Homo sapiens: one gene and its partners. The protein of the gene in region 3 purifies or fractionates together with the protein of the main gene of each other region. This does not show direct contact. Each region holds a gene or a part of one and is shown on either strand. Other genes may lie near its edges. The genes, in order: NAPG, ZNF217 and PIPOX.

The links.
Region 1: the proteins of PIPOX (region 3) and NAPG purify together in Homo sapiens (affinity purification with mass spectrometry; 3 studies listed by BioGRID and IntAct, with this or other methods). This does not show direct contact.
Region 2: the proteins of PIPOX (region 3) and ZNF217 purify together in Homo sapiens (affinity purification with mass spectrometry; 3 studies listed by BioGRID and IntAct, with this or other methods). This does not show direct contact.

What each region holds. Positions count from the first base shown.
Region 1 is NC_000018.10:10,528,932-10,536,040, reverse strand, and holds part of NAPG (gamma-soluble NSF attachment protein), read right to left. Parts: intron 7,041-7,109; coding exon of another isoform or gene 6,996-7,040; intron 5,272-6,995; coding exon 5,204-5,271; intron 3,331-5,203; coding exon 3,246-3,330; intron 2,520-3,245; exon of another isoform or gene 2,506-2,519; coding exon 2,488-2,505; intron 1,576-2,487; coding exon 1,545-1,575; intron 1-1,544. UniProt on the Homo sapiens protein: Required for vesicular transport between the endoplasmic reticulum and the Golgi apparatus.
Region 2 is NC_000020.11:53,576,806-53,583,914, reverse strand, and holds part of ZNF217 (zinc finger protein 217), read left to right. Parts: exon of another isoform or gene 1-148; intron 149-746; 5' UTR 747-1,088; coding exon 1,089-2,454; intron 2,455-5,464; coding exon 5,465-5,581; intron 5,582-6,634; coding exon 6,635-7,109.
Region 3 is NC_000017.11:29,038,983-29,046,247, forward strand, and holds the start of PIPOX (peroxisomal sarcosine oxidase), read left to right. Parts: upstream 1-4,158; 5' UTR 4,159-4,243; coding exon 4,244-4,357; intron 4,358-5,876; coding exon 5,877-6,025; intron 6,026-7,265. UniProt on the Homo sapiens protein: Metabolizes sarcosine and L-pipecolic acid.

The DNA of each region.
Region 1 (7,109 bases), on a different chromosome or scaffold from region 3:
GCATGAAGTACACTAAGAATGTAACAGCCACCTGGGAGCTTCCTAATTCTCAGAGGAAAATGAGACATAAGAAGACCAGAGCAGATCCCCAGCTTCTTTGGCCGTAAGAGAAACTCTATGGTTTCAAAGGAACTGTGGTTAATAACCTAACTTGCGGCACCAAATACCAATTCAGTTGCATGTTTGGCCAGAAAAGCTTTATTTCAATGGATATATAATAGTTTATAATAAGGAAGCATCATAATTTATTTAAACACTTTCCTATTATTATTATTACTTTGAGACAGAGTCTCGCTCTGTTGCCCAGGCTGGAGTGCAATGGCACGATCTCGGCTCACTGCAAACTCTGCCTCCTGGGTTCAAGCAATTCTCCTGCCTCAGCCTCCCAAGTAGCTGGGATTACAGGCGCCCGCCACCATGCCCAGCTAATTTTTGTATTTTTAGAAGAGACAGGGTTTCACCATGTTGGCCAGGCTGGTCTCGAACTCCTGATCTCAGGTAATCCACCCACGTTGGCCTCCCAAAGTGCTGGGATTACAGGCATGAGCCACTACATCCAACCTCACTTTCCTATTATTCAAAATTTAGATAATTGGCATTTCTTCAAGAAACAACCTGATGCATAAATCTTTGATCTCTCTCTCTCGATGATAGACTCACAGAATTGAAATTCCTGGGTCAAAGACTATAAAATCTTTTAAACTAAGTATGTTAACAGCTATTACTAACATTCTTTAACTTTTCGGTATTTTTTATTGTCTACAATGAGCATGTGTTCACTAAAAAAATGAGTAAGTTCACATTATAAAAGTCATAGAAATTAAAAACAAAAGCTTTACTAAGGTAAAAGTTCTTAAAAACAAAGCTTTATAATAAATACTTGAAAGTAGCTTTTACCATTTTAGAAAAAAACATTTTTAAAAAAGAAAGACAAATACTTCATTTCAACTGCCAGCTGGCATACTTTGAAAGTCAGCATCATAAAGTAGTATGTTCTGTCTCACCACAGCAGGACATTAATTCCTGGCCTGCTTTTGAGGAGCAGAAGTACAAACAGTGGCACAGGTACATTAGTTGGAATATTCCATGCAGAATGAATTAAAGTAGCAAAAGCTTAAATCTGTGGTTGTTTCTGCTGCCAACTGTTATTCACATAAGTAAAAATCTCTTCTATAACCCATGTATGATAATTTTTTAATATTTATAAAATTTTACTACATTTAGATGTCCTTCTCAAAAGTAGAGAAACTTCCCATAGAGCTCTTTTTATAGCAATACACATCTATCCTGGTTATAGAGCTTAGAACATTAGTGTTCCCAGTTCACTCCAATACATTTTCTCTTAAATTTCACTTTTAACATTCCTTAAGACGTACAGAATGTATTCTATGGGTCCAATTAACGTTACCGTGGACAGAAAATCTTAACTTAGCACCTCTTGCCTTACAGTAAGGAAGCTTTTCAACTTCAACAAAAATTCTTGTTTAACACCTTGTAGTTAATTCATTTTACCTACACAACAATTGTGACATAACATTACTGACCTTCAACATCATTCCAGCTTGCTCATAAGCTCTGCAAAGAGAATATAATTTCTCTGATGAGATCTTAACGAAATAAGGGGTAGAAGAAACTTTCTGGTGAGGAACTACTGGTAAGGAAAGTGACTTCAATTACAATGGGCTCATGCACAACATATCACTTCAGGCTTATATTACCACACAATATAATTTTTTATTCTTTTTTTGTGGGGAATAATGGCTTAGAACATCAGACATTTGAGTTAAAGAGATTTTATTTTGCAGATGCAAAATTAAGTAAGGCTCAGTAAGGTTAAATTAATTTCCATCTGACAAACCTAAACCTAAGTTTTTTTGTTTGTTTGTTTGTTTTTGGGATGGAGCCTTGCTGTGTCGCCCAGGCTGGAGAGCAGAGGCACGATCTCAGCTCACTGCAACCTCCATCTCCCAGGTTCAAGCAAGTCTCCTGCCTCAGCCTCCCCAACAGCTGAGATTACAGGCACGTGCCACCACATCCAGTTAATTTTTGTATTTTTAGTAGAGACGAGGTTTTTCACCAAGTTGGCCAGGCTGGTCTTGAACTCCTGACCTCAAGTGATCCGCCTGCCTCGGCCAACAAATAACTACTCTCCACAAGGCAAGAGAAAGCTTCCTGCTTCATCTCCACAGGCACCATTAACTATCAAACAGAGGAAAAAAGAGATCCTAACTTATTTTTTTCCCATAGGCTACTGAACAAAATGCTCCTAATAAAATATTATGGCAAATTTAATTTAAACTCTTTACATCTTACAGTTAGGAGTAAGTCTTGGTTTTTAAGGTTTAGGTAAAAACTGAAGCAAAGAGAAATGATTATTATTTAAATCAATACAAAATTTATAATTTGGGAAAAAATTACCAACCTACAGAAAAACAGCAACATTTAAAACATAATTTGCAAATACATGAAAACATGAAGAATACTTACTTGGCAGCATGAAAAAGACTGAATGGAAGTAACGAAGTCAAAGTTAAGGAAAAAAGAAAAAAATCAATAGTTTCTATAGATCAACTATTTAAAGACAGTTAACTAAATCACTGACCCAGTTGGTTCCAAAAGACAAATCCTACAAACAGGTAAAAAAGAAGTAATTCAATACCTGTCAATATAGTTTAAAACTACATAATTCCCAAAACCACTAACAAAACACTGCACAGATTTTAAACTATTTCTATTACGCAATAATCTGAAGTTTTACTGAAGTACAAAGTTATTATGACTACAGTTTGCAAATAAGAGAAACATTTTTTATTGATAAGTTTGCAAACACCTCAAGAAAATGTACTGTTTTAAACTACTTATAATTTTTATTTCAAATACCTAAGGAAAACTGTATTTAAAAAAATTGATACAGTAGTTCACGTGTTTTCAATACCTGTGCTACTTCTTCATTCTTCAGCACATGTCTACAGATTTACTTTACTTCATCCCAAGTAAAACCATCATCAAGTAAAATCACAAACAATAGAAAGTAAGTATTGTAGCTCTGCGAACCAGTGTGGACCTTATAATCAAACTTCATTATAAACGCTCCTTCATAGTTTAAAAATACAGAATTTTTCTAATCATTTTCTAATTTAAAAACATTTTACTTCACAGGTAGTAAAGTAAATTTACAGCAAGAGAAAACAGCTTGTCAAAATCATCTAATTGTTTAATTTCTTTTTAAAAGTTGAAAAAGATACGCCCTATTATTTTCATGGGCAACAGCTTCCCTCAGGCAGGCATCTTTTGCTTGCTCAAACTGTTTGGCATTTTTAAAAGCAACAGCTGAAATAGAAAAAAAAATTGACTATTTCCATCATTAAAAACCTCAAATGAATCATTACTGAAATCTGCATTTTATATGAAGTATTATAAACATACTTACTTCAAATACTTAGGAAGTATCCTAAAACTATAAAATATTACTTTTTTCTAAAGCAATTTCCTTACAACTTTTCCAATTATTGGTAACTTACGAGTATTTTTAAAACTTTTTCTTTTTTAATTGTTGACTACTGGCAACAAATCAGTGTTTCTTCCACTCAAAATCAAGAAGTCTTTCTAACACCAACACTCCCCAATACTCCCCAGTAACCGGCAGATTCTTCAGTCACAAAAGACAGCACCTTACTTCACCAGTTTTACCTTTAAACGGTATTTTGGGTATAGGTCATTCGATTAGGTAGAAACTGAGGGCCAATAAGCACATTTAACAGTTTTTTATAATAAACCTTCCTTTTGGCACAATCTTTAAATGTCTAACAATGCATTTTTTTAAAAAAACAATCTTTTATACTGTTTACTATCTATGAAAAAGATGTCTCACTGTTCAAACAGCTAAAGCATACTGAAAGCTGTTTTAAAAGTGTAATCATCAAAACAAAACAGGAGTGCTTATAACATATGATCTTACAAATTTTGGAAAACTTATCAAGGGTTGCTTACAAAGAAGCAAAAAGCATAATGCTTTAAGAAAAGTGCTATTTGTTAAAAACACTCTTAAAATTCTCTTTAATAAAATGTGAAAACCAAATACTGAAGCTATTCCCCTCCCTGCTTTTCCATATGTTGCTTTTTAAAAAATTTATTCTGATTAAATAGGTTTTCCATAAGCCCTTAAAGAAAATAAACAAAGGATGCTTCAGGGGGAAAATTTCATCTAAAACATTTATTTTTGAATGTAATTCATGATCTCAGAGGGGCAGAAAACAAATCTGTGTTAAATTTCCCTCACAGAGGAAACTTGCAAAATGTTGTTCCCTTCTGCTACAGAAGCCTCCTTGCATGAGTAGTCCACAAAATTCATACAAAGTTTGAACTTTTAATAATTTTCAAGTATAAGATAAACAATTTGCATGATGCAAAAAAACAGAATTTACTCAGATTTAAATAAAAGTACTGAAGACTCATTTGCTGTTTAACCAAAAGCACTTGCCCCAGATGATCTCTATGCTAGGCTAACAAATGTGATAAGGGCTATCGCTGAAATACAACTGAAAATGTGTTCAAGGTACTTCAAAATTTTGTTATATTTATACTGCAAATTATCACAGGTATGCTTAAAGCTATCATTCTGTAATTCAGAATGCTACATTTTTAGTAAATTCCCTTTCTGTTGCATATTTTAGATTGTTTATATCTTATATAAAGATAAATTGATTAAAATATGTATATAGCTTAACACTTCATGAACACTGAACAGATACACTCAAAGTGAGGTTCATAAAAGACATAAAATACCAAGCAAACATATGATTTGCGTATCAGGTTAAGATGAGGCTAAGTTAACAAAAAATTTAACAAACTCCTAATTCAATAGAAAGTATAATAGAGAAATATGGCAAAACTCATGGATATGGTATTCAAATAACTGGAGTTAAAGAATATATAAGCAACGCTAAAAACCCACTACTGTGTATCACCAACCCCGCCCCATCCCTGCTGTCATAGACAGCAGGTACCAGGAACTCTGACTCAGCTCTCAACACATCTGAAAATAACAAGTGGAAAAAAACTCAAGGGCTTGCACAGTTGTTTTGTTTGTTTTTTAACTATTAAAGCCTTATAGAAAGCATATGAGTAAGTATTATGGTGAAATGAAGTTATCAGACTATTTTAAGATTACATACTGGAGCAACTGGACTATAGTCAAAAATACCTGCTTTTCCATATTCAGAAGCGGCACTGTCATAATCTGGCTTCCATTTTAAAAAACCAGTTTTCAGGCTAGAATGAAAAAAACACAGTTAACAGGAGTTACCAACCACATTTATAAGTCAGATCTCTGCTTGTAATGACCTTCTAGGTCTTTAAAAAAAAAAAAAAAAAGGAGAAACCATCAGGCACAAACTCTGTGTCACCCGCCTCCATCCAAACTTAGGCCTAACAAACACAACCTCACCTCTTTCACTCCCACTGTCACAGGTACGTGGTTTTCCTCCTAGAGGTTCTCAATTCATGGTCCCTGGACCAGCACCATCAGCACTAACTGGGAACTTACTAAAATCGTAAATTGTTGACCCCATCCCAAGCCTACAGCACCTCTGAGGTTTAACGAGCTCAAAGGTGCATTAAAGCTTTAGAACCTCTGAAGCACAGTATCGACAGCAGAGGGATTCATGAAACTGACGCACAGACAAGAGTCTAGAGACATAAATGGAGGCATCATAAGCATATGTCAAGAGCATAGATGAGATCAGATCCCCTAGTGAGACTGCAGAGAGAGAACAGAAAGACTAAGGAATACAATCATTCAGTGAAACAACAGAGGAAGTAGGCAAAAAAAAAAAAAAAAAAAAAAAAAAAAAGTGAAAACTCGCCACCCATAAACAAGAAGGATAATCAGAAAGGGAAGGATATTACAAAAGCCAAGAGAAACTGCTTTCTAGGATCACTACTGGCTTCTTGGATGCCAAACCAAAGGACAATCAATTTTGAATCCTTAACTTACTTGCCTTTTCCTCAATATTTATTTTCTTATTTTAAAATAATTTCAGACTTAGTTTAAACTAATTCAGTAACTGTCAAATTTGGGTGTGCATAGAAATTGCCCAAACCATCGTAAATTCTAAATGTCATTCAATTAGTGAAGGCCTGCTTGCACAGAACACTGCTTGCTTCAAATGACTCAGGGGAGTATCTTAACTGAAAGATGAGGCATCTGTATGAGCACTCAGAAGTACAGCCTTCATTATGTGACAGCCATGGGAACTGCCACAAAGTCATAGCTTCTTTTTTTTTCTTGAGATAGGGTCTCGCTCTGTCACCCAGGCTGGAGTGCAGTGGTATTATCTCGGCTCACTGCAACTTCCGCCTCCCAGGTTCAAGTGACTCTCGTGCCTCAGCCTCCTCAGTAGCCGGGATTACAGGCTTGTGCCACCACACTCAGCTAATTTTTGTATTTTTAGTAGAGAAGAGGTTTCGCCATGTTGGCCAGGTGGTCTCGAACTCCTGGCCTCAAGTGATCCGCCCACCTTGGCCTCCCAAAGAGCTAGAATTACCGGCATGAGCCACTGTACCCAGCCAGCTACAGTAACATTTTTTGCCAATTAAATTTATTCAACATATTTAGCATCTAAAACTTGTTTGTGTATATAGTGTTACAAGATTCAAATTAAAATAAGCAATTTTTCAAGCTTACCAAGAATTTCACTGTTCAGAAAAATAATATCCTTAAATTGTGGTGTGTCTACTCAAATCTACAAAATTGAGGAAATATGCAATATGCAAAATGCTAACCCTCTGTTCCTATCCCATAACAAACATTACATTCTGTATATTAACATAATTTTTTTAATCCCACTAAAAACAAGATACAATCACTCCGTCACCTAATGTGCTATACACGGAAAGACCCAGAGAGTTTAAAACTGGGCAAACCATCCCAAGTCACATGAACACCACTAATAAGGAAGAAAGATATACAGCTAATTTGGGTTTAGCAGCCATACCTGTTAGTCCTTTTGACCTTTTTCTCCAAAGAATCAATAAGGAAACTGACCAATTTCCACAGAAAAAAAGAAAACAGCAAAATTACCATCTGTGTGGGGATCAATTTACAAAAT
Region 2 (7,109 bases), on a different chromosome or scaffold from region 3:
TTGGACTAGGAAGCCCCACCCAGTGCTTGTTGAAGGCAGAAAGTCGTTGAAAGCAAGCTGGGATTTGAACAGTGGATTGAGGTTTCGAATATCCAGTGAACCAAAATATATCAGGGTTCCCCTGGCCAAGATGAGTGACCATTCTGAGGTGTTAAGTATTTCTTGAATGGGGATTTTAGGAAAAGTTTCTGTATTTCTGTGCTCATTTTGTTGACCTCTGTATGTGCAAAATCTCTAAGGGGGTGTTTGGGCACTTAGATTTCTTGGATGCAGATTTGTTTGTATATGAAACAAATTTTAAATTGTTTTGTATACACTGGATTTAAAATAGTTTACTAAAGTGTTTTAATTTTTTCATCTTAATTTTCACAGTTCTTATAGTCTTTAGATTTAGGGAGGCTGTTGATGGCATCCACATGTGCATTTTAGTGGCATTTAAAATGTATTCAGCTGAATTTAACAATTTCTGACCTAAAACTTGACATTTTAGATTTAAGTCGGTAAAGCACTGATTTAAACTGGATTTTAACTGGATGAAATTCTGATTTAATAAGTGTACTGACTGGATAAAATGCCAATGATTTAATTAACAAGCACGTTTAACAGGATGCCCTATATATTAGTTAAAAGTGAAGCAATTGAATTAGGTACCTTCTCTGCTGCGTGGAAAAGACCGTATGACTCACCCACACCAGCCTTCTCTTCGCTCTGAGTGTAGCTAACCGTTTCTGTTTTTTTTCCTCTAGGGTTTGGAAATCCCTTGTCTCCAGGTTGCTGGGATTGACTTCTTGCTCAATTGAAACACTCATTCAATGGAGACAAAGAGAACTAATGCTTTGTGCTGATTCATATTTGAATCGAGGCATTGGGAACCCTGTATGCCTTGTTTGTGGAAAGAACCAGTGACACCATCACTGAGCTTCCTAAAAGTTCGAAGAAGTTAGAGGACTATACACTTTCTTTTGAACTTTTATAATAAATATTTGCTCTGGTTTTTGGAACCCAGGGCTGTTAGAGGGGTGAGTGACAAGTCTTACAAGTGGCCTTATTCCAACTCCAGAAATTGCCCAACGGAACTTTGAGATTATATGCAATCGAAAGTGACAGGAAACATGCCAACTCAATCCCTCTTAATGTACATGGATGGGCCAGAAGTGATTGGCAGCTCTCTTGGCAGTCCGATGGAGATGGAGGATGCCTTGTCAATGAAAGGGACCGCTGTTGTTCCATTCCGAGCTACACAAGAAAAAAATGTCATCCAAATCGAGGGGTATATGCCCTTGGATTGCATGTTCTGCAGCCAGACCTTCACACATTCAGAAGACCTTAATAAACATGTCTTAATGCAACACCGGCCTACCCTCTGTGAACCAGCAGTTCTTCGGGTTGAAGCAGAGTATCTCAGTCCGCTTGATAAAAGTCAAGTGCGAACAGAACCTCCCAAGGAAAAGAATTGCAAGGAAAATGAATTTAGCTGTGAGGTATGTGGGCAGACATTTAGAGTCGCTTTTGATGTTGAGATCCACATGAGAACACACAAAGATTCTTTCACTTACGGGTGTAACATGTGCGGAAGAAGATTCAAGGAGCCTTGGTTTCTTAAAAATCACATGCGGACACATAATGGCAAATCGGGGGCCAGAAGCAAACTGCAGCAAGGCTTGGAGAGTAGTCCAGCAACGATCAACGAGGTCGTCCAGGTGCACGCGGCCGAGAGCATCTCCTCTCCTTACAAAATCTGCATGGTTTGTGGCTTCCTATTTCCAAATAAAGAAAGTCTAATTGAGCACCGCAAGGTGCACACCAAAAAAACTGCTTTCGGTACCAGCAGCGCGCAGACAGACTCTCCACAAGGAGGAATGCCGTCCTCGAGGGAGGACTTCCTGCAGTTGTTCAACTTGAGACCAAAATCTCACCCTGAAACGGGGAAGAAGCCTGTCAGATGCATCCCTCAGCTCGATCCGTTCACCACCTTCCAGGCTTGGCAGCTGGCTACCAAAGGAAAAGTTGCCATTTGCCAAGAAGTGAAGGAATCGGGGCAAGAAGGGAGCACCGACAACGACGATTCGAGTTCCGAGAAGGAGCTTGGAGAAACAAATAAGGGCAGTTGTGCAGGCCTCTCGCAAGAGAAAGAGAAGTGCAAACACTCCCACGGCGAAGCGCCCTCCGTGGACGCGGATCCCAAGTTACCCAGTAGCAAGGAGAAGCCCACTCACTGCTCCGAGTGCGGCAAAGCTTTCAGAACCTACCACCAGCTGGTCTTGCACTCCAGGGTCCACAAGAAGGACCGGAGGGCCGGCGCGGAGTCGCCCACCATGTCTGTGGACGGGAGGCAGCCGGGGACGTGTTCTCCTGACCTCGCCGCCCCTCTGGATGAAAATGGAGCCGTGGATCGAGGGGAAGGTGGTTCTGAAGACGGATCTGAGGATGGGCTTCCCGAAGGAATCCATCTGGGTAAGCTGCCCTGTCTCCGTCCCGTGCTGTTCCGCCTGTGTCTGTCTGTCTCCCCGTCTCCCCCTCTCTATTCCCATCTCCAGACAACGCTGGCCAGGAATGGGGTTTGGAGAGCCAGAGTCAAGTCCAGGCTCTTTTTGGTATCACTCTGTGTAAGTCATTTAACCTCTCAGGGCCTTAATTTTCTCATTTCTGTAATAACAGGGTTGAGTTAAGAGGTCTCCTTGTTCTGAAAATATATATATATTTTTTAAACGTGTATCGTTTTGCTCACAAAACACACTTTAAAAAAAAAATAACTTGTGCATCCAGCCCAAATGCACTGCTTCTTAACTGGGGCGATTTTGTTCCCAATCAGTATCTGGCAATGTCTGGAGGCATTTTGGTTGTCATACTGTGTGTGTGGGTGTGCCTGCTGGCATCCAGTGGGCAGAGGCCAGGGACACTGCTCAGCATGGTACAGTGCACAGGACAGCCCCATCATCAAAGAATTATCTGGTCCCAAATGTCAATAGTTTGAGCATTGAGAGACCCTAGCCTTCACTTAAGTTTTTCTGGCGTTCCTGATCTTTTTCTGTAGTGAATTTCTAGTGGCCATAAAAGGTACTGGGAGTGATGATCAACTAGAGCCAGGAATATTATTTGGGCAGCCGTTTGGTGCTGTCCAAAACCTTGTCCTTTCTGTCTGGCAAGCTAGTATCCATTTATAGGTACCTCAGGAACCCAAATGATTTGTCATAAAATACAAGGAATGTGAGCACACTGAAGACATTTTTAAGAAGGCTCATTTGCTCAGCAGAATTTTCAGTGTACTAGTGGCATTTATAGAAAGAGAAGGTGATCACTGAAGGCATGCTCACATAATATTCCTGAGCCCTGGTGGGCGTTATCTAGGGCAAAGGATTCCACCTGTGTTTGGAGTTGCGCCCATCCTCACTGTAGCCAGAGCTTCTCCTATCAGAGTTTAGTATTTTGTTTGAATAGAGGATCTTGCTGCTTAAAACAGTTGAAAAGACCCTGATGGGCAGGCCGTAATTGACAAGCGAATGATGGGAACATGAATCGGTCTTAGGGAAGCATCTGTCAAAGTGGTCCTCGGTTAAAACAAGTGCCTCCTCCTCTCAGTGTCACTTGATTGTGTGCTTGAATTCTTCGGAAAACTGGGTGTATGAGACCCACGATGAATTTGCCCACACGATTGATTGGACTCTTCCTTCACCTGCTCTTCAGCCAGTGCCAGTTCCTTTTCTGATCATGTGATTGACGTGAGAACTGTAGTCTGTATATCAAATCTTTAGAATGTTTTTGAGTTTCCTGGGACACAGGAAACCCAGCACTTAGCATACTACAAATCTAATGTCTTAATGGCATCATAAAAAGAGGCTTTAAACACAGACTCCAGTTAGCTAAGTGGTTTCTGCTAGTGCCGGTACTGTTGCAGGGGCCCTGTGAGATGCCCCAGTTCCCTGAAAGAAATGAAAAGGCCAGTTACCGGTAGGTGGTGTGGAAAACATGGGCTAGATCATCAGGCAGGACAGAATGCCTGGCTGTGGGTGGGAGCACCCCAGCTTGGCGTTGAGTTCTGGTTCTACCACTGCGTTGTTTTGTGACCAATTATGAGTTGCTTAACCTTTCTTTGCTACTATTTCCCTGTTTGCAAAATGGTTCATTGACCCCTGTCTTCCACCTCCCAAGGACAATTTCAACAGCCTATTTGTAAAAAGATCACAGTCCTTTAAAAAATATAACTGTAAAGTCAGAGGTGATGCTTGAAAGAGCAGGAACCAGGTAGATGTGGAAATGTCATGTCCTTTGTTCTAAAGAAAAGGCATTTCATAGCTTTTTGGATATGACGCAACATACCATAAATCCTGACACATAGTTGGGAGTCGGAAATTGCAACAACGCCCAGTTATAAACCCAGCTAGTTTGGGTATGATTGTAAGAAAAAAAAGCTGGCCATTCTGTATTTGGGGAATTGATTTTCCTAAACTTATATTATCTTAGTAGTCTAGATTTATCATATTGTACTATCATCCTGGCTTTTTTAAGACTTAAGAAGATCAAGTAAATTTTTTTTTCTTTCTTTAGACACTATATAGATCATCAAGGGTGTCTGTCTTACAGGTGGATAGTGATATGATCTACAGTGAGGGGACATTTATTTAAAACTTAAACATTCATGTGTTTTGGGGGTGGTATTTTAACGGCAGCACCTCTGATTGTCTTTTGGAGGGCTGGTGTGTGTTTGAAGTTCTGTCCTCCTTCCAGTGGACTCTAACTTCTCCTGATGCACGTGAGACACATTGTCCTATTGTCCTGCAGAAACTAAAGCCAAACACTGTCATTTGGGGACAGGTTTTCATTTGTCAGATCTCTTTCGCCCACATGAGTGTTTGTGGACAATACAGCCTGCTTTCCAAAACTTTGCTAAATTTTGACAGACTTTCCTAGGTGCTTGCCCAATGCCAGACTTTCTTTTCTGTTGAAGATTAAGTTGTGCTTGCTGCCCTCTAGTGGTCAGTTGTTTAATCCTAACCTTAAACGGCTTATTTTTCCCCTGGTGGTTGGGAAGTTGACGGTTTGTAATTGGCTCATTTTTCTAAATTATTCTGAAGAAGATAATTTTTCCCGCCAGTATGTATGTCCACCTTCAGTTTGCCAGATCCTGCCTGCTCAGAGACACTGAGAACCGGAAGCTGCCCGGGCAATTCAGTCTATGAAATGATCTTTCTTGTGATTAAGGCAAACGAAGAACTGAATGTTTAATAGTGTACTCTGCTGTACCCAGAAAAAAACAAAACAAAATCATGTTATAACACTCTAAAACTTCAAACAACCTCCAACAGCATTTGGTGTGTGTCTAGCCGTTTTGTTCTAACCCGATGTTATATAAAAGAATTTTTTCATGCTTTCCAAAAATGTTTATGTCAAGAATATTTAAGTCAGCATGCCTTATTCAGGTACTTCAGCTACCTTCTTATATAAATATTTTTGTTTTTCCTTTAAGATAAAAATGATGATGGAGGAAAAATAAAACATCTTACATCTTCAAGAGAGTGTAGTTATTGTGGAAAGTTTTTCCGTTCAAATTATTACCTCAATATTCATCTCAGAACGCATACAGGTAAAGAACTTTTATTTTTTTAACCATGCATTAGTTAAATTATGTAGTTATCTAATTTTTTTGTTGTTGTTGTTCAGATACTCTGCCAGATCCTTGGACTAGCTTAAGGATAAATATGTAGCATGTTGATTGCAGTGGTTATTTTTATTCTTTTAGTGCCATTGTAACTTGAGCCATTGTTCTTATTTGCAGTTCATTTCTTTTCTTTCTTTTTTGTTTTTTGAGACGGAGTCTTGCTCTGTCACCTCGGCTGGAGTGCAGTGGTGCAATTTCGGCTCACTGCAGCCTCCACCTCCCTGGTTCAAGCAATACTCCTGCCTCAGCCTCCCCAGTAGTTGGGATTACAGGTACCTGCCACCACACCCGGCTAATTTCTGTATTTTTAGTAGAGATGGGGTTTCACCATGCTGGCCAGGCTGGTTTCGAACTCCTGACCTCAAGTGATCCGCTCACCTTGGCCTCCCATAGTGTTGGCCTCCCATAGTGCTGGGATTACAGGCGTGAGCCACCGCGCCCGGACAAAGTTCATTTGTTTAGTTTATGACTGCTATGTCCTGACTCTTATCTTATTAAAAGCTACAGTATTTTAAAATGCTGCATCTTATGTCTTTATGATTGAGAATGAAATGAGAATCTATTTAGTAGTCTTGAGATTGTGAAAGGAGCTATGACATCATGATGTAGGAGGCTGCGTAGATTTGAAATTTCATCTCTTCCACTTACTATCTGTGCACCCTTGGGCAAGTTATTTAACCTTTTTGTGCTTTTAGTTTTCTTTGCTGTAAAAGTAGAATAATACATATTTCCCTAGGGCTGTTAGGAAGATTAAATAAGTTAGAAGTGTTGCTGTTAATTTTTCTATTGAAGATAGGCATTCATAATTTCAAATATTCATTACAGTAAGGATGATAAAGAACTGATGAGAAATCCTATGTGATAGTAGATCGAGAAAGCAAAAGGAGGAAAGAAGCCTGTTTTCTTAATAAATAGATATTTGATCTATTTCAGTGCTTTTCATACACTTCTATAATAAAGTGCCATTTCTTGCCTTAGGTGAAAAACCATACAAATGTGAATTTTGTGAATATGCTGCAGCCCAGAAGACATCTCTGAGGTATCACTTGGAGAGACATCACAAGGAAAAACAAACCGATGTTGCTGCTGAAGTCAAGAACGATGGTAAAAATCAGGACACTGAAGATGCACTATTAACCGCTGACAGTGCGCAAACCAAAAATTTGAAAAGATTTTTTGATGGTGCCAAAGATGTTACAGGCAGTCCACCTGCAAAGCAGCTTAAGGAGATGCCTTCTGTTTTTCAGAATGTTCTGGGCAGCGCTGTCCTCTCACCAGCACACAAAGATACTCAGGATTTCCATAAAAATGCAGCTGATGACAGTGCTGATAAAGTGAATAAAAACCCTACCCCTGCTTACCTGGACCTGTTAAAAAAGAGATCAGCAGTTGAAACTCAGGCAAATAACCTCATCTGTAGAACCAAGGCGGATGTTACTCCTCCTCCGGATGG
Region 3 (7,265 bases):
TTGTGCCAGCGAGCCAGAGCTTGTTCAGCCATTCCTTGTGGTTGAGTTATTTCCCATTTTTTTATATTGTAAAAGCACAGATATCAATATCTTCATACCTTTGTCTCCCCTTGGGATATGGTTCCCCAGGTTGAATTTCTAGGTCAGAAGGTTTGAGCTGTTTTACCCGGATTGCTGTGTATTGCCTCAGCCACCTCCAGGAGATCCTGACAACCCAAATTGCCACCCTCCTCTATCTCTGTCCCCACAGCACTGACAACATAAGAGATTGTCATTTTTATTTATTTTTGCTAATTTAATAGGCACATAATAGTACCTTGAAGTTATTTAATTCCCATTTCTTTCATTGCTAGTGAGACTGGGCACACTTCCATGTGAGGATTTATTGTCTGCTTTTCCTTGTACGTAAACTGTTCATCTCCTCTGACATCTTATCAAGAGAAATCTGGGGGCTGATCTTATATATTTATATCAAGCCTTTACATACTCAGATAGTACATTTTTCTCGGTTATGTCAGCCATTTTTTATTCTGGGGAGCTGTCCAGTTGTGATGTGGATGCTGGCCTGTTCCGGGGGGTGGGAGTGGCATATGGAGTTGTGAGGATTTCTGGACTCTTGAAATATACATACATATATATATATATATATATATATATATATATATATATATATTCTGGGGTTTTTTTTTTTTAGAAGAAAAAAAAGCCAAGCATGGTAGGTTTTGCTTGTAACCTAGCACTTTTTTTTTTTTTTTTTTTTTTTTTAGGCAGGCTTGCTCTGTCGCCCAGGCTGGAGTACAGTGGCACAATCTCGGTTCACTGCAACCTCCGCCTCCCGGGTTCAAGGGATTGTCTTGCCTCAGCCACCTGAGTAGGTGGGATTACAGGCCTGCACTACCACACCCAGCCAATTTTTGTATTTTTAAGTAGAGACAGGGTTTCGCCATGTTGGCCAGGATGGTCTTGAACTCCTTGCCTCTAAAGATCCTCCCACCTCGACCTCCCAAAGTGATAAGATAACAGGCGTGAGCCATCGCACCCAGCCAGTCCCAGCACTTTGAGAGGCCTACGTGGGCAGATTGCTTGAGCCCAGGAGTTTGAGACCAGCCTGGGCAGCATGGCAAAACTCTTGTCTCTACAAAAAATAAGCTGGGCGTGGTAGTGCACTCCTGTGGTCCCAGCTACTCAGGGGGCTGAGGTGGGAGGATCAGCAGAGCCTGGGAATTTGAGACTGCAGTGAGCTATGATCACACCACTGCACTCCAGCCTGGGTGACAGACTGAAATCCTGTAACAGGAAAAAAAAAAAAAAGATAAAGAAAAATCCAGTCCGATGGCACCTCCTCTCTGGGCTCCTGTTTTCCTAAGAACAAAAGGGCTAGGCTGAGAGGACAGCCAGTTGCCAAGATCAGTCTGGGGGATTACTTGTGGAATGAGAAGCATTGCTGGCGGCCTTGGCAGGCCACTGTAAGGAGGCAGGGCAGCTCCCTGTAGTCATGTGGGTTTCCTGGACCATTATTTTCTCCCACTCATTGTGGGAGAAATAGCAAAATATTGAAATCGGAATCATCATTACAAGTTCTGACTCATCCTCAGTAAAGCACAGTGGTTAAAGGAACGGATTCTGGGGCAGACAGACCTAGGTTCACAGTTCAGTGTCTTTCTTTTCTTTCTTTCTTTTTTTTTTTTTTTTTTCCATAGAGCTGGAATCTTGCTCCATTGCCCAGGCTGGAGTACAATGGTGTGATTATAGCTCACTGCAGCCTCAAACTCCTGGGCTCAAGTGACCCTCCTGCCTCAGCCTCCCAAGTAAGTAAGACTACAGGCATGCACCACCATCCCTGGCTAATTTTTAACATTTTTTGTAGAGATGCGGTCTTGCTATGTTGCCCAGACTGGTCTCAAACTTCTGGCCTCAAGTGATTCTCCCGCCTCGGCCTCTCAAAGTGTTGGGATTACAGACGTGAGCCACTGTGCCCAGCCTCAGTGTCTTTGTATACCAGGGGTGTTGCTTTGGGTAAGATAGAATCTCTCTAAGCCTTCACGTCTTCAGCCATTAAGTAATATTTTGGTTATGGCTGTGTAAAAAACCTCCCCAAAATGTTGTGGCTGAAAACAACAACCATTTTATTCTGTTTCATGGTTTTGTGGATCAGGAATGAAGCTTGACTGGGTGATTCTTCTGCACTATGCAGCATCAATTGGGTCACTTGGTACTATTTGGCTGGTGCTAGGCTGGGCTGGAGGAACCAAGATGACTTCACTTTTCTTTGAGACAAGGTCTTGCTATGTTGCACAGGTTTGTCTGGAACTCCTGGCCTCAAGCGATCCTTCCTGACTCAGCCTCCCAAACCAAGATAACTTCATTCTTATATAGAGTTCTCCACCTGGTCCCAGGTCCTCTCCATGTGAACTCTCCCATAGGGTGCCTGCACTTCTAACATGGTGGCTCAGGGCTCAGAGAGTAAGGGCTCCTTGGCCAGGTGCGGTGGCTCATGCCTGTAACCCCAGCACTTTGGGAGGCCGAGGTGGTCGGATCATGAGGTCAGGAGTTCGAGACCAGCCTGGCCAATATGGTGAAACCCCGTCTCTACTAAAAATATGAAAAATTAGCTGGGTGTAGTGGCGCTCGCCTGTAGGCCCAGCTACTCGGGAAGCTGAGGCAGAAGAATCGCTTGAACCCACGAGTCAGAGGTTGCAGTGAGCCAAGATAGTGCCACTGCTCTCCTGCCTGGATGACAAAACGAGACTCCCTCTCAAAAAAAAAAAAAAAGTAAGGGCTCCAACATAAGAAGAGGAAGCTGCCAGTCTCTTTAGGGCTGTGCCAGAAAGTGTCATGGTATCACTTTTGCCATATTTTATGGGTCAAGCAGTCACAGAGTCTGTGATAGAAGGAGTGAAAAAGAATTTGGGGCCATCCTTAATCTGCCAAAAGTAGGCATAAAAATACTCCTAAGCCAGGTGCAGTGTCTCACACCTGTAATCCAAGCTTTTGGGAGGATGAGGTGGGAGGATTGTATGAGTCCAGGAGTTCGAGACCAGCCTGAGCAACACAGTGAGCCCTCGTCTCTACAAAAAATAAACAAAATTAGCTGAGCATGGTGGCATGCGTTTGTAGTTTCAGCTACTCGGGCGGCTGAGGTAGGAGGACCCCTTGAGCCCAGGAAGTGGAGGCTACAGTGAGCCGAGTTCGTGCCACTGCACTCCAGCCTGCGTGACAGTGAGATCCCAGAGATCCTCTCAAAAACCAAAACTTCAAAAACAAAAACCCGCAGAAACTCCTAGGGCTATGAGGAGTAAATGAGATAACTCATGCAGAGGCAAATTTACCATGAAGCAAATGAAACTTCAACCATGGGGGTCCTTAATTGAACAGTTTCTTCCACATCCGGGCATCTAATTTTGTATTAATAATTCTCCTTTTTTCTTTTTCTCAAAGAGTACCCTCGAACTGTATGACAATCAAGCCCTACCCAAATGCCAGTATCAGTACTTACTAAGCATACTGCCTGGGACAGAGAGATGCTCAACACGGGGCCCCTCCAGGCACTGGGCTGGCCTGGTCCCCTCTCTGTGGCTGAGGAGAGGGCTCCTCCTCTCACTCTGCCCTTTCTGTCTTTTCAGGATCATTTCTTCTTTCTTCAAAATGAAAGTAAAACATGCTGGGAATAATTTCATAATTACAAAACTGCCCTCCCAATTGGCCCCTGCCTCTACCCCCTGACCTCACCACCCACCAGGGAGGTGGGTCTTATTCTGGGCATCGTGCCAAGTTCTTAGCGGGGCCCTCTAGAATCTCTAAAGCAAATCAGGCTGAAGAGGGGAAAACCAGCAGGGGGAGGCAGCATTCCCGGTGCCCAGTATGGTCTAGGAGGCATTGAAATTCCAGGGCCGAAGTCCTGAGACAAAGATCATAATGAGACAGGAAGGTGGCAAAGGAAGGAGCCCATTTGCATGACAATAATTGAGCCAAGAATAGAAAGCCACAGGGATGCAAGGGTGAGGCTGGCGGCTGAGCTGGGCTAAACCTCACAAATCAGACTACCCAGCTCTGCTCCGCAGGGGAAGGGAGACTGAGCCCTGGGCCAGGCTTGGCAGAGAGGGAAGCGGGAGGACACGACCCCAGGGCATTGTGGGAACACTGGCCAGGCTGGACTTTGCCTTCCTCCTCGTCCTTTAGCCGGGAGCCTGTCTTTGCTTGCCTTTGCCTTTGAGGCTCTGTGGCTGTGGGGCTGAGTGGCATCATGGCGGCTCAGAAAGATCTCTGGGACGCCATTGTGATTGGGGCGGGGATCCAGGGCTGCTTCACTGCATACCACCTGGCCAAACACAGGAAGAGGATCCTCCTGCTGGAGCAGGTACTGTGTCCCTTCTGCACCCCCAGCTGTAAGGACTGTCCTACCCTCCTCCCCTGCAGAAGGGTTTTCAGAGCCAGCAGGCTACAGGGCAAGGCCAAAGGGACTGAATCATCAAAAATTCTGTGTAATTTGTATCTTAGCTGCCTAGTGTGTTTCATGGCAATTCAAAGAAGTTTCACATCCCTCATACCCACATTGGGTTTCTAGGCACATTTCCTCTTTCTACTGCTTCCCAGTTCCTGCCCTTGACCAAGCGTCCTAGGCCCTGTTCTCTTCCTTCTCACTACTCTTTCCCTTCTGTGCCCAAATGGTTGATCCCCACCCCAGAAAAATAATTGGTTCTGCTCTAGGTAACCTAAAGTAAAGATAATTTTGCCTAGAGGCAAAGGTTGATTTATCAGCCTAAGAGGTAGGATTCTGTCTTGCATATTCCTGGCCTCTCACACCAGAACCCAGCAGAAGCTTCTGTTTTTTTTTTTTATTTTTTATTTTTTGCCACCTCCAGATAATAGCAGCCTCCTTGTTTGACACATGATAAGTGAGACTGAGGCCTTATTTTTCCTGCTACGCAGTGCAGTCTGCAGTGACCACTGCATATGTGGGTGGGCCCTGTGTGTCTGCAGGGTCCTTCGAGGACAGGGCCACCCAGCTATCCACTGCAGTGGACTCTCCCTTTCCATTCTGCCTGCAGCTACCCAGGCTGGCTATGGTTTGCTCTTCTTGGTAATGAGCCAGAGTAGTTAGAAACCTTCTTCATTTCTCTATCAGTTTTCTCAAAGCCCAAGGGATTCCTGGTTCATCCTCTCAGGAAACTCATTGTTGCTGAATCCTGAGGTGGTTCTCTTACCCTGAGTGATCTGTAGCCACAGAGAAATAAAGTCAGCATCAGTTTCCTTGTTCATAAAATGAAGGGGCTGGAGTAGTTGAACTGGAAGGTTTTTTCTAATTTTGCTTCTTTGTGAATCTAAGTGAGGTGAGATTGCAGCAGGATGGTTGAAGACTAGCTAACAAAAGAACTTCTGGATGTGAACAACGTTAGCAAAAAGGAAGCCTAAGTTAGTGCTATTGAAGAACTTCTATCTTGATTGCCAAGTCAGTAAATTGGTCATAAAGAGAGAATTTGGAAAGATTGTGTGAATTTTTTTTTGTGGGGGGACAGGATCTCACTCTATTGCACGGGCTGGAGTGCAGTGGTACTATCATAGTTCACTACAGCCTCAAACTCCTGGGCTCAAACAGTCCTCCTACCTCAGCCTTCCAAGTAGCTGGGACTACAAGTGCCACCACACCTGATAGTTTTTAAATTTTTGAGAAGACTGGGTCTTGCTATATTGCCTAAGCTGGTCTTGAATTCCTGGGCTCAAATTATCTTCCTGTGCATAATCCTTCCCCAGATTGTGTGGAAATATTTGAAGGATAAATGGCTCCTGGTTGACAGCACATGCTGATATGGCTCTTAACAGGGGATGCAGTGTGAGGGGTAATGGCTTCCATCATCTCTCTTGTTTTCCACTTCCAGTTCTTTCTACCACACTCCCGAGGAAGCTCCCATGGACAAAGCCGGATAATCCGAAAGGCGTACCTGGAAGACTTTTACACCCGGATGATGCATGAGTGCTATCAGATATGGGCCCAGCTGGAGCACGAGGCTGGAACCCAATTGCACAGGTGGGCTGTGGGAGGAATTCCTTGAATCGTGGGGCTCTGCACCTGCAGGTACTTTTAGTGTGTGAAGTGGCAGCGCCATGGAACATTTGGAATGCAATGGGAGGGACACAAGGCCTCAAGAAGTACCAGATGCATGGAAGAGTTCTGCTGTCATGGTGGTCACCCCACAGGTCCAGCTGACTCTGGCCAGGCTCTGCGTTGCAGGACTGGGTTCAGACCATGTGTCCAAGGCTAGCAGAAGCAGTACTGGAAAGCCTGCTGGCAAGGCACCGTGTGGCAGATGCCCAGAGTGGACAGGAGTCTGCTGGAGTGTGTATTTTCAACTCTGTGGAGGCCTCTGCAACTCTTTTAGGGCAGGGGTTGAGATAGAGGAGGAGGCTGCTTTCAGGAGGATTCTTTTTTTTTTTTTTTTTTTTTTTTTTTTGACAGAGTCTCGCTTTTTTGTCAGGCTGGAGTGTAGTGGCGCCATCTTGGCTCACTGCAACCTCCACCTCCCGGGTTCAAGTGATTCTTCTGCTTCAGCCTCCCGGGCAGCTGGGACTACAGGTGCGCACCACCACACCCAGCTAATTTTTGTATTTTTAGTAGAGACAGGGTTTCACCATGTTGGCCAGGATGGTCTTGATCTCTCGACCTCATGATCTGCCCTTCTCGGCCCCCCTAAGTACTGGGATTACAGGTGTGAGCCACCGTGCCTGGCCCAGGATTCTTTATAGTCAAATCAACATCCTAACTTTTCCTGAGGGGTCCTCACCCCCTTTAGCAGCCCTATAAACCCATTTTGTTCTCTCTGAGTACCTTTTCCTGTAGGAACAAAATGGGGACGTTCCCCAGGCTGGATTGCTTGCCAGGGAGTGAGCCTCCACGTCTTTCTCTGCTGCCTTCATGGCTCTCTCCAACCCTTGACCTTTCAAACACTCATGGGAAAGAAAGCCAATAATCTGTGATGCAATGGGAACTTTAACCATCCCACCTCCCTCCCACCTCCTCTGTGACTCTTAACTGAACTTCCTACAAACCCTGGCTCTACCTGATAGGGTGGTGGTTATTTTAATGGCCAGGAACCAAGAGGTTAGTGTTCTGTTGCAAAAATACCATTAACTTAAGAACAAAGTGAAATCCATTATGCAAATCAGCCAGGGCAGCTAATTACAGATTTATTCAGAGGCAGCTAATGCACCCAGCACCCAAATAAAGGAGCATGTCTTGCTGGTGGGTGGCCCGGCAGAGGGACCCCTCT